Homo sapiens: one gene and its partners. The protein of the gene in region 1 purifies or fractionates together with the protein of each later gene. This does not show direct contact. Each region holds a gene or a part of one and is shown on either strand. Other genes may lie near its edges.

What was found.
Region 2: the proteins of EMCN (region 1) and PLEKHG3 purify together in Homo sapiens (affinity purification with mass spectrometry; one large-scale study listed by BioGRID and IntAct). This does not show direct contact.
Region 3: the proteins of EMCN (region 1) and NEXN purify together in Homo sapiens (affinity purification with mass spectrometry; one large-scale study listed by BioGRID and IntAct). This does not show direct contact.

What each region holds. Positions count from the first base shown.
Region 1 is NC_000004.12:100,420,462-100,424,179, forward strand, and holds part of EMCN (endomucin isoform 1 precursor), read right to left. Parts: intron 2,944-3,718; coding exon 2,851-2,943; intron 2,620-2,850; coding exon 2,560-2,619; intron 978-2,559; exon of another isoform or gene 917-977; coding exon 821-916; intron 1-820. UniProt on the Homo sapiens protein: Endothelial sialomucin, also called endomucin or mucin-like sialoglycoprotein, which interferes with the assembly of focal adhesion complexes and inhibits interaction between cells and the extracellular matrix.
Region 2 is NC_000014.9:64,703,032-64,707,303, reverse strand, and holds the start of PLEKHG3 (pleckstrin homology domain-containing family G member 3), read right to left. Parts: upstream 2,881-4,272; 5' UTR 2,600-2,880; intron 1-2,599. UniProt on the Homo sapiens protein: Plays a role in controlling cell polarity and cell motility by selectively binding newly polymerized actin and activating RAC1 and CDC42 to enhance local actin polymerization.
Region 3 is NC_000001.11:77,887,178-77,891,423, reverse strand, and holds the start of NEXN (nexilin), read right to left. Parts: upstream 2,801-4,246; 5' UTR 2,665-2,800; exon of another isoform or gene 2,156-2,664; intron 1,957-2,155; exon of another isoform or gene 1,885-1,956; intron 1-1,884. UniProt on the Homo sapiens protein: Involved in regulating cell migration through association with the actin cytoskeleton. Has an essential role in the maintenance of Z line and sarcomere integrity.

The DNA of each region.
Region 1 (3,718 bases):
ATGCTACTACATTATACGACCAGGGCTGGGCTGTGAAGTGGAAAGATAGTTTGCAATTACGGTAACATGACAGCTGAGCCATGGGAGTTGAAGGGGTATTTAGGTGAAGGTTGAGTAAAGAAGAGGCAAATTTCTTGGAACAGAAAAAAGACTGAGTAAAGACTAAAAGAAATCAGAATTTAGTTAACAATAATTTATCAGTATTAGTTCACTAATTGTGACAAACATACCATCAGATCTTAATAAGGGAATAAGGGAAACTAGGTATGGTGACTCACTGTACTATCTTTGCAACTTCCCTGTAACTCTAAGTCTACTCTAAAATAGAAAGTTTATTTTTAAAAAGGATAAAAAATATAACATGGTCTTGGAAGATACTTTCGTTGGGTGTGTCTCCCAGGAGGGAAATTAGTCACGGGACATTTTTTGAGATTATGGGCCCCTGAGCTGAATTCTTAGCAATCTCCCTCTTTATTTTCTGTTACATAGAAATGGAGTTAATCTTTACCATAGACAAGTTATGTCATTGTTATGCCCTCTTTACTATCATATTCCCCTGACCACCCATAAAATTTGGGCTATTTTATTAAAAAGAATTTCCCTATATTTGATAATATCTACTCATAGTATTTAGTTCCCACTCTGCAGTTCACTAGCATTCAGTGGGTGTCTGTGCCCTTCGTCCTTTGTTTCTGTGATCAGGAAATATGACATTTCATTTCTTTCTATAACTTTTCTCTCCCTTTAAGAATTTAAAATCAAGTTTAAACTGAGCATTCATTCTTCTTTCAGGAAAACAAAACAAAACACTGTTACCTACCCGGATCTGCCTTCCAGCACATTCGGTACAAACCCACCAGAACAAATACTGAAAGTGTTATTACAATCAAAGCAATAACCACCGGCAAAATAATACCTAAAAAGAATTGGAGACATTGTCAATTAGAGTGGCTACTGAATTTCACAGCGATAGTTTGGTAAGTGAGCCAAAGCATGAGTACTTCCTTTCTTCTTTAAATATCATTCTATTAAAAACATATTTTAGGCAAAGATTCCTCTGATTCATGGGGTTTGCTCTAGTTGTCATCTTTGACATAACCACTTGATGTCAGTCTTGTAACCTTTCTGAAACAAAATTCCAACCTTAAGAGAGAGTGCCCCCATCTTCCTGGAGACTGAAGAAGTGGGGAGATGGGAGACTGGAGAAGCAGAAGATGTACTCTAGATTATAATTAAATCCTCATTCACTCATTACATTTTTTAGTACTTTATAATGAAGTTACCAAAATATATATAACCCAACGGGGATTGCTTTAGTCCTAATGCTGGCTTTCTAAAACACTCACAAATTTCTTTCTATAATAATACCTTAAAACTAGAAAAGGCATAAAATAATGTAAGTAGATACCACAGTGAAGATGATTCTTGAAAATGAACATGATTCAAGAGAGATGTGTATGTGTGTCTGTTTGGGGGAGTGATGTTGCTGCAGTAACTTAGGGTGAGTTTTTCATATTTGTATTAAGAGGAAGAGTATTGCCTGCCTTCCTTCCTTCCTTCCTTCCTTCTTTCCTTCTTTTCTGATGGTTATTTCCAAGGTTAAAAGTACAGTGATAAAAGCAAGAGAGCTGTCATAGACACACAACTAAAGGAAATTAAGATGACTATTAGTTTAGCATATTTGCTTTCATATGTACTCCTTATATATTTATCAGGGGTGAGACTTACTCTCCAATTCATCTGTAGGATGGTTTACACTTCCATTGTCAGAGTTAAATATTTGTTTTAAGTAAGTTCTGCTGATTTCATAATAGACCTTAGGTGAAATCATTATTGCCTCCCAAATGAAGATGCCGTGAATCAGCAGGTCAGTAATTTCTATGATGACTTATTTAATGGAATGGGTTTAACTAAACTTAATAGAGCCTTTTATAATAACAGTTTTGAATATTGTCTTTTTATTCTTAATTACTAAGGAAGTTATTTAATATTCTGTATTCAGTCTTAGCACACACATAAATGTTATATGACATATATAGGTTTTAGTTAAAATGGAACATTTCTTAAAGGCCGTTTTTAATGTTCTATGAAGGCAAACAATTCATTTTTTGATATAATTTATTTATTATTTTAATTATTTACTTGACAAAAATAAAATATATTCAGGGTATACAACCTGATAATTTGGAAATAATTCACTTTTATGGGGACCTCTACCTGTGCATTTTGACTTATCTGAAACTAGTCCCATCGAGTCATCCTTGGCCCTTGATCGTAATTGTTAAACACTAAACTAAGAAAAAAATTGCCAAACTGTGCTTTTTTTCCTCTTCTGTTTTCTTTCTTTCTTTCTTTCTTTTCTTTTTTTTTTTTTTTGTCATTAAGACTCACTTGTGGGAAATTTTCAGAGCAGGCAGCAGTTAGATGGGATTGTAATGGGATTGCAGGCTCAGTAAAGTTGAGAAAAGGCTGCCCATAATCTGATTCCTCTCCTTTACTGGTCACATTCAAACATTCTGCATATCTACTGCCATGAATGAAGGCATTGCTGTTACTCACTGGAATAAGACCGGCTGGTTGCTGAAGTGCTTGCATTTTTTCCACCCTCAGTGCCTATTACTTTAAGAAAGAAAAAAACAAGTCACTTTTGGTTAATGTGTGCCAATTCTTGCAGTCCTCCCTCCACCCTCATTTAAGGAAACAGCCATGATTTGTAGGTATGATGCTGCAAGTGCAAAAGATTCAGTCTCATTCTGAAGGAGCTCTGTTTTGTGAGTCAAGATTGTTAGGGTTTCAGTCAAGAAAGGGTCAGGTAGAGCAGATTTCCACTCAGGCACACAGATATCATACCTTGAGACTGTGAGGTGTTTTCTGGAATTGTAACTGGTATTGAGGTTAATGTACCAGTTTTAGAAGGTGATGCATCTGGTTGTAGAACACTACCTGTATGAAAATTACAAATGCAGAATCAGGCTATGGTATTAAGCCTTCATATGGGATTTCTTTGCAGATTCAAACAGTTTGCTTTTCTGAAGATCTGTGAAAACTATTTATTGTCAAATAGTAGGATAAATGCAATCATAACACTAAACCATAAGTTCATCCATTCCTCCTGGAAAGATAATTAAATTTAGAATCACAAAGCCTGAGTATCAGTTTTACATCTTCAGGAACTCGCCAAGAAAACTTCAGTAAGTTTTTTAGCGTAGATTACAGCCTGTATAACCTACTGCATAAGATTCTTGTGGGATGTAAATCTATGCAAAAGCATTTTTCAAATTTCAGATATTATAACTTTGGGTGATAGTGTTTTTTTTCTATCACACATAGTTAAAATGATCATAACTGCACAGGACGTCAGATTTTATGTATTTATCAGTGATTGAAGAGAAAAAAATTGCAGTTGAGGCTTTGGTTAGAAGAATTGAGGAAAAATCAAAGAAGACTCCTTCATTTTCATCCCTAAAGTTCAGCAGCTGGTTTTATTATGTGCCTTTTCTAGAGTAATGCTACTTGACTGTTTTTTTTCACTAGCATCCGTGCTCTTTTTTTTCCAAGGAAAATATAAATTAAAAATTTATTGTTATCGTTATTTGTTTGTTTAGTTAACATTTGCCATCTTCAATCAGAAGGACTGAAGCAAAAATTATAAGTAAAAATCTACTATTCAAAATCCATAGCTGTCAATAAGTTTAAAGGAAATATAAATAATTAAGTA
Region 2 (4,272 bases), on another chromosome or scaffold:
TCTGGCCAGAGGTGAGTTGTGGGGCCCAGATGAGCTTGACAAGAGGAAATGAGGATCTGCCAGGTCCGCTGGGGGCTCCAGTAGCCCCTTCCTCCTGGCAGTTGTGATTTCCAGCTGCCAGGGCCCCCGCTGGAGGGCTTCTGCTGAGGAGGGAGGATGGAGTAGGGCGGGTTTGCAGCCACGGAACAAAGGCCTGTGGACTTGCAGCTGGCCAGAGAGGCGGGACAGAGCAGTGGCCTGGGCCAGAGGGGCGGCCTGAGATGGGGGAGGGGGCACAGATGAGGAGCTGAAGACAGCCCTCAGTGCAGCTGCAAAAGCAACACCCTCCCAGAGTCCCTGCAACCCCCAACACAACAGAGAATAGCCAGAGGGCTTCACTTTTAACCCTCCAAGGCCAGGGCGGCCTGGGCTTGTGGCAGCACCCCTGGCTTACAGCTGGAGCCTTCACAAGGTTCTGGGAGCTGGGAGAAGAGAACGGGCAAGGCATACCTCTGCAACAGAGGAGCCTTCCCCCTCCAGCCCTGGTCATCCCGCAGGCCGTGGCCTTTGGCCTCTTCCAGCGTAAACAGTGACCGTGGGATAGCTGCGGATTTGGTAAGGCAAATGTTTACTCTGGGGCTGAGATATTAAGACCAGGGTGTTTTAAACATCCAACAATGGCTCCTGGTATCTAACGTCTCCTTGTGGCACACACGTGGGACATAGCCAGCAAATTGTAAAACCCTTGGGAGACTCCCTCCCGAGCCACTGTGAGCCCTTTAGTTTTAACAGGAGTTTATGGAGCACTTTCCACAAATGAGGCTTCCTTTGATCCTCACCACAGCTCCTATGAGGAAGAGCAGGCAAGTAATCCCACTTTATTTATGTGGAAACTGAGTCAGAAAAGATAAGTGAATTGGCCAGATCATGTTGGAGAAAACACAGATCAGACAATGAGGACATCTGACCTCTGGTTTCTACTTGGCCAATAGGGTCTAAGGCTGAAATCACCTCACCCCTCTGGGCTCTGCTGCCTTCACGAGTAAATGAAGTAGGCTAATCCAAGGGGCCCCCCAGCCCAAGTGACTCGCACTCTTCAACTCTACCAATCTTCCATGCTATGCAGAAGAGCCAGGTCTAAAACTCAGGCATAAACCCGTGCTGGACTATCAGGCCAGTGCTCTTTCCACTTCCCCTGCCATGCCACTTCTAATAAAAGGCAGTAGAAAAGCCCCCAAAGCAGCTCTTCAACAAATCACTCCCTCAGCAGCTAGGACTTGGCCTCTGGGTACCTCTTCCCCCAACTTCCTGCCCCATCCCCAGGGCAAGTTACCCAGGGAGCTAATGGGTTGTCCTATCTTCCAGGAAGGGAGTGGAGGACAGCAGGTGTCGAAAGGAGAAGTGAGGCCATTGCATCCAGGGGGCCAGCCCGGAACCACAGGGGAGAGATGTATAACAGAGAGATAAATGTACACTTTTGGTTCTCACTCCCTAGTTTCCTCCTGGGGAACAGCTGGGGTTTAATCACTCAGGATCCCATCCTTGTCCAACAAAGGATGGCCCGGAAAACCACACTGCTGAAGGCGAGGTGGCCGATGTGCTCAACGGGGAGGCCCTCCCCCGCTCCGGACTGTCATTGCCCTCCCTGCTTATTATTTCTTGAGCAAGGGCCATGTGACTGGGCTGCGTGCAGAGGCACGGCTGGGGAGACTCTGGGAACCCCCACTCCAGGGTTCCCCGTAAGGTGAACGCAGTGTGGGTCTCCTGCTGGGGCCCCCAGAGCAGGGGACAGGCACCTACATATGCCAACAGATTAGCGAGTGACCTCGAGGATCAAACTCTTTCGCGGCCTCTAACAACACCCTCCCCAAAAGCCACACCTCTCCAGCCTCCAACCATTCCATTCTCCCCTCCGTTCTTCCTTTTGTGTTCCAAAGGCGCCCCGAAGAGTCAAAGTAGCTATTTAACGCCTTAAAAATTTAAGCTTGCACGCCTTATACTGGCTTTCCAAACCAAAGGGCTGGGTGTAGGGGTGCGAAGAACCAAACCGACTTCAGGAGTGGACGAGGTCGAGGCAGCTGGTGGCCGGGCTTTCCGCTCCCCGCTTCTGGCCCCCACTCTCCTCCCTGCCGGACAGGTAGCCGAGATTCCCAACAGCGAGCACCGTGCGGCGCCAACCCGGAACAGGCTGCAGGCGCCTCCGGGGCTGGCAGGAGCCGAGGCTCGGGTCCTCGCGCAGAAGGGTCCACCCGCCAGGCCCACAGCTCCAGCCAAACACCAGCCCTCGGGCGCGCGCGGCCTCGCGGGCTTCCTGGATTTCAAACTGAGCCTCTCTGGAGCCGCCCGGCGCATTTGCCCCTTTTGTTTCCGGAGTGGAGGGAAAAAAAGACAGAAAAAGTCTCCCCATACGACCCTCCTGCGCTCGCGCACTCTGCGGCAGGGTGGCCCGGGAAGCAGCCAACACAGTTCCAGGCCCTCCTCGGTCGCCCCGGTCCTCACCCCGCAGGGGGCTGGCACGGGGGCCGCGAAGGGACTGGGGCCCCAGCGTGACTGCCGGCACCGCCGCTCAGCCTAATGCAGGGAGATAAGAGGGGAGAGAGGAGAATCAGGGGACACTCACCGAGCGGTAGCTGCCCCGCGGGCTCGGGACGCGCACGGCGTGCGGGGCTGCCCAGGTGCTGCCGCGACGCGGGCGCGAGTTTGAAAGTCGCTCTCTGAAGGGGCTGAGGCCGCCGACCGCTCCCGCCCACCGCCAGCCCCTCAGCTGGCCCGGACTCGGCCAGCTGCAAGCGCGGCCCCCGGAGACCCCAGGCAGCGCGCGGCTTGCCAGCGCCCGGCAGGAAGTCGAGCGGAGCCGGAGCTGCAGCGGGAGGGCAGGAGGGAGCGAGGGAGCGAGGGAGCGAGGGAGCGAGGGAGCGAGGGAGCGAGGGAGCGAGGGAGGGGCGGGCCAGGAATTTTTCCTGTGGGTGGAGACTCCAGCTCGCGGCTGCAGTCCAGCAATTGGCGGCTCTGCGGGGGCCGGGGCAACCTTCGCGGCGCGGCGAGCCAGAGCCGGGGTAAGGCTGCGGCGGCGGCGAGGCCTGGGCGCGGTTAACGATTAACGCCCGCAGGGTGATGAGCGCGCACCCCCGGGCAGCCTAGATGCTCTAGGATACCAAGACGCACGTGGTGGGGTCACCCTGGTGTCACAGACCTGCTATCACCGCCTCCCGAGACAGCATGGACTGCCAGAACGTACCCCTTGTATGGACAGGGAACACCGGGCCCTGCGAAGGGGGCTGAGGGCTTTCCCAAGTGAGTGACCAGCCGGGATCGATCTGGGGATCCTAATCCTACCAGAGCCGGCCGTGTCCGCTTTTCCAAGTCAGAAAGGCATGTCTTGAATTCCTCACCATAACTCGGTCCCTGTGACGCTTTACAGTGGTAAATGCAGACCTCTGAGAAGCTGACGGGAAAGAGATAAAGGAGACAACGTGAAGGCAACTCCACAAGGAACTGTTAAATAGGAAAAATAAAACACAGAAACCTGGATGATAGAGGACCCGTTTTTATAAAACAAAGAGAACCGTTTGTCTTTATGTCTCTGTATATGACCGTGTATGCATGGAAAGGTACACACCTGGAAACTGGGGGGCAAGGGGTGAGGATGGGGGACAGAGACATTCAATACATTTTGAGCAAGAGCATAAATCCAAAAACCCATAATAATTCATCAGTAAAGATCCTGAAGAACAACAAGCCCGGAGGAGGGAAGCCCAGAGTGGGGCTCCGGAAGAGGAACAACGCCCACTGGTTAGGCGCTATCACTAGTTCCTTGGGAGGAGGAATAGGACGCTGATATTAGAACCACGGGGTATATTTGTTATCCAGGTGTACAGCAAACGATTTCTAGAGGTATCATTTAAAACAAAACAAGCGCCCGCCCCAAAATGCTGCTCTGGGCAAATGCAAGCTCCAGGTGATCTACTGGGAGGGGAGAGGCGGGGCAGGCGCGGAAGGAAATGGCTTTCAGGTGACTTTGAAACTGGATCCTGGCGGAGGGTGGGGTGAAGGCAGCGTCCCGGCTCCTGCCTGCGGAGGAAGCGGTAGGCGCTCGGTCTGGCAGGCCCAGAAAGCGGGGCCCACATTCCTTAGGGAGGGAGGGTGTGTTGGAGGCTTGCAGAGCCCCAGACTCGCGGACCGTGAAGGTGAGAGCAGAGATTGCAGAAGAGGGGCTCGGAAATAGATCAACTTAGTTGGGGCTCCGCTAGACCCCGCCGGCCAGGGGAGAAGTGACAAGTCCCCCTTCTGGCC
Region 3 (4,246 bases), on another chromosome or scaffold:
TTACTGGATGGCAGACACTGCATGGGATGCTTTCACATGTTGTTTTATTGAGATATGTCAATGCAAAAAGAAAGAGTTCTATGCATGGGAAAAAGACTTAAAGGAAATACATCAAAATCCTAACAGTAAGAGTGTCAGATTACAAGAGCCCCTTTTTCCATTCTCCATAATTTTTAACCATAAATATAACATGGTGTATTAACATTATAATACAAATTAAACTAAAATTTAAGGTGGATTTCTGGGTACAAATCCACCCACCCTGGAGTATAGAAAGTAAACTACTATAAATTAAGCCAAACTATACACTGAATATTTAAATAATAAAGGAAAATGTAGCCATTTCAAATGTATATAATATGTAACTATGCAATTATAAACCCAGAAAGAGAACATGAAAGAAACTACACAGGTGATATGGACCGCAGATTGATTAAATAAGAACAGAAATATGTGAAATTGTTAAGAATGTTATAAATCATTTTCTCTCCAAATTATAAACTACCAAGATGTTCTGTGTGTGTGTGGCCTACATAACTATAAAATAACAGTCCTCTCTTCTATAAAAACGTTTAGACTTTTACCTGTCTGTTACATACTTTTCCACATTCACTGCATTATTTTCTTTCTTTTAGGTGTGCACAACTCTCATATTTAAATAATCCCCCTTTTTTTTGTCTTTTAGGGTATTTCAAAGATAACAGGTATTTTTTTTAATAAATGAAGTATGTCATTATAGGCCGCTCAGATTCTAAGCAATCTGAATCCCCAATTAATGTCTTCCAAATATGCATATTTAGTTTTTATTCTGCTCAAAAATGAAACCCTAACCTAAATACTTCAAGTGAAATTTCAGGGGAAAAAGACTGTTCAAAAACCTAGATAATGCATTCCTTTGTTGATGCTAAATATAGTCATCTCAAGATGACATACATTTTGACAATGATCAGCCTTACATGTCAAATTTTCAAAAATAGCACAAATTCCATTTTAAGGTGAGCAGGAACAATTGCTATTCATTACATTTCAATTGAAAATGGATTTTAAAATATGAATCTTTTATTAAAACTGGATTACATTGTAACTATGATGAGGAAAACTGGATTTAAAATAATTTTGTTGTGGTTTTAGCTTAGAATTCTTTAAGGGAATTGCAGATAAACTACATAATTGCATGCATTTTTCTTTAAATTGTTCCTCAGAAGCATTAGTCAAAATATAAAATATCTGCAAAAATACGGTGTTAATTGTAAGGAAGAAGAAACTTAAACAGCTACATTGGTTAATCAAAGTTTACTTATACAAATTATACCTCCCCCCAAAAAACCTTTCTCTCATTTGATTAATTATGCATTTTTTCTTAACAATACCCCAAACTCAAAAGAATTTGAGACAAAGTTTTCTAACTGCAGCAGTTTAACCTGTAAAGGATAATGTTTAGCGGGGGAAATTATGTGGTCCACTCAATAACGTGTGACTAAGATATAAATAACGTGTGACTAAGATATGAACTTAAGTATAAATACTTAAGTTTATTTAATCACATTACCTAAGACATAGTTATGTTGTGACTCGAAGGCCAATGGGCCGCTGCTACATGAATTCATTAACAAAATTTAACGATGAATGATATTCCCGTTGTTTTGGTCAGGGAACTAATTTCTTTATTATGGCTTCTTTTCTCTACCTGTGTCTTCACCAAGGACATTTTGTTAGGACATATCCTTATGCTATTTTTACCTTGTTATCTCTCTGCCAACTTGGTTCACGTTGTGCTTTAATAACTATAAAATGAGCATCTCTAAGTCACTGCAGTAACCAACTATAACCTCTCAACTTCGTCATTTTCTTTATAAATGCCAATGCTAATGCATTTGTAGAACGTTTCACAATTTACAAACAGCTGGAATGGTTTGGCGTTTTCAAAAGCATATAGGCAAAGGGAGTTCTCAAGAGGTGACTACATTCTTCACTCACTTAAACTACGTAAACTTCGTAAACTTCCAGCCCTAGTTGCTCAACCCCCAGCATCCCACCTCGGGCAGAATCACGAAAAAAAAAAAAAAAAGGGTTGGAGACAGGAGTGGGGGGATATGCGGGGGTGTGGGGGGGGAGTAATAGGCTGTTAAATCATATTTCTCCCCATCTTCCACAGAGACCGATCAGAAAGGATTTCTTAACTGGCACTGCTGGCAGAGACGGAGACCGCGGCTGGGGCAAGTGGTGGGGGACGGCACTGAACTTCCCTAAGGACCCCAAGGGTTCAGCCGAGGGATCGGCACCCACTCCGCTCACAGAGGGCTCCCTCCCTACAGTAGGGAACGCACCCGAAACTCAGCCGACAAGGCGCAGGGGAGCAGGGCAAAGACATTGCAACCAGAAGCCCAAGGCCGGCCGACACTTTCAGACCCTGGGGCAGCCCCTGGTAGGCACCCCGCCGAGCCCGCAGGATGCGGCTCCAAGGCAGGGTTCGCCCGGGCCGGGGCCAGCGCGGACCACAGCTGTATGGCGCCCGGCGCCCTCCGGAGCTGCAGCGGAGCACGGCCAGAAGCCGCAGACCCCGAGCGCCTCTCTGCAGCCGCCGTTCCCGCCCCCGCCCCCACCAGGGGACCCGACACCTCCGTCTCCACTCCCCCCAGCCCACGTTCCCCCAACTCTTCTCACCCTGCAGGAGCCGGTGACCGGCGAAGGTACTTCTTTCCGCGTGGAGGGACTGTGCGCGTCCCGCCTGGCTGTGGGTAGGGGTCTGGGAGCTCTGGCCGCTAACACTTCTGCTCCAGCCGCTGGGAGTCCTCTGGCTGCCGCTGCCGCCGCCGCCGCCGCCGTCTCCAGCAGCAAGTTTCCATAAAAGTCCTGGTGTGCAGCCTGTTCCCGCATTCCAGGCGGGCCCAGCGCCGGCTGCAGCTGTTCCAAAACACAAGGCCAGTTCCCCCAACCCCCCACCTCCGCCGTTATCACCCGGAGTGGGGGTGGAGAGTTGAGGAGAAAAGCAGGGGAGGGGGACCGTGGCTGCCAACTTTCCGCCAGAATTTGTCTGTCTCCCGGCCCTAGGTGCGCGAGCTGACCCCCTAACTTTGGGCCTGCCTCCACCTCCAGCCAGGCCTGGGGAAGGAAGGCTGCCTCCGCCATGGGAAAGGAATGAGGCTGAAATGGGCTTCATTACCGGGCTGAAGCTGGCTCCCCCTACCCGCAACCAGTTTGCTCTGGGGCCCACTTCTCTCAGCTACTCTACCCGTCCTAGTTTCCAGTCAAGAAGCCAAGCCACTACATATCTTCTACTACCCTAAGCATTGACCTTTGGCCAAGTTTTCCTTTATTACAAAGAGCGTGGGGCAGCAATCCGGGAACACTTCATCTGTCTATTGCTCCCCTGTTCTTAGCTCCAGTCTTTAACTCTAAAAGGAGAGTTAAAAAAGAAGAAGAAGAAGAAGAAGAAGAAGAAGAAGAAGAAGAAGAAGAAGAAGAAGAAGAAGAAGAAGAAGAAGAAGAAGAAGAAGAAGAAGAAGAAGAAAGTTGAAGGCAGAGGAGGAGGAGGAGAAGAAAAGAAGGAATATATTTATATAAGTACAAATATCTTTATATTCCACCTTTTTCTTAATTGAAGGCAAACCATATCTGGTCTTTCTAAAGCTTCATAAAGGCATCTTTGACTATTAGACACCCACAGACCTTTTTCAACTTGGACCGCCAGCCTGTCAAACCCATCAGACAATACCATATTAAAACCCGAAATGCACACTCGGAGTATTTTTGGTGGACGAGATCTTTAATTCTTCACTGCACTTGAAAAAAAAATCGAAATGACATCCAGATAAAGAATAAAGGTAACCACTTCCACCTTCAGGCCCTAAGCAGACAGCGGTGCTCAGGTTATATTTCAGGGATGTTGAAAAGGCCTTCTGGGCTGGGCGCGGTGGCTCATGCCTGTGATCCCCGCACTTTGGGAGGCCGAGGCGGGTGGATCACTTGAGGTCAGGAATTCAAGACCAGCCTGACCAACATGGCAAAAGGCCGTCTTTACTAAAAATACAAAAAATTAGCCTAGTGTGGAGGCACACACCTGTAATCTGAGTTACTCAGGAGGCTGAGGCAGGAGAATCACTTGAAGCCAGGAGGCGGAGGTTGCAGTGAGCAGAGATCATCCCACTGCACTCCAGTCTGGGTGACAAAATGAGACTCTGTCTCCAAAAAAAAAAAAAAAGGCCGGGCGCGGTGGCTCCTGCCTGTAATCCCAGCACTTTGGGAG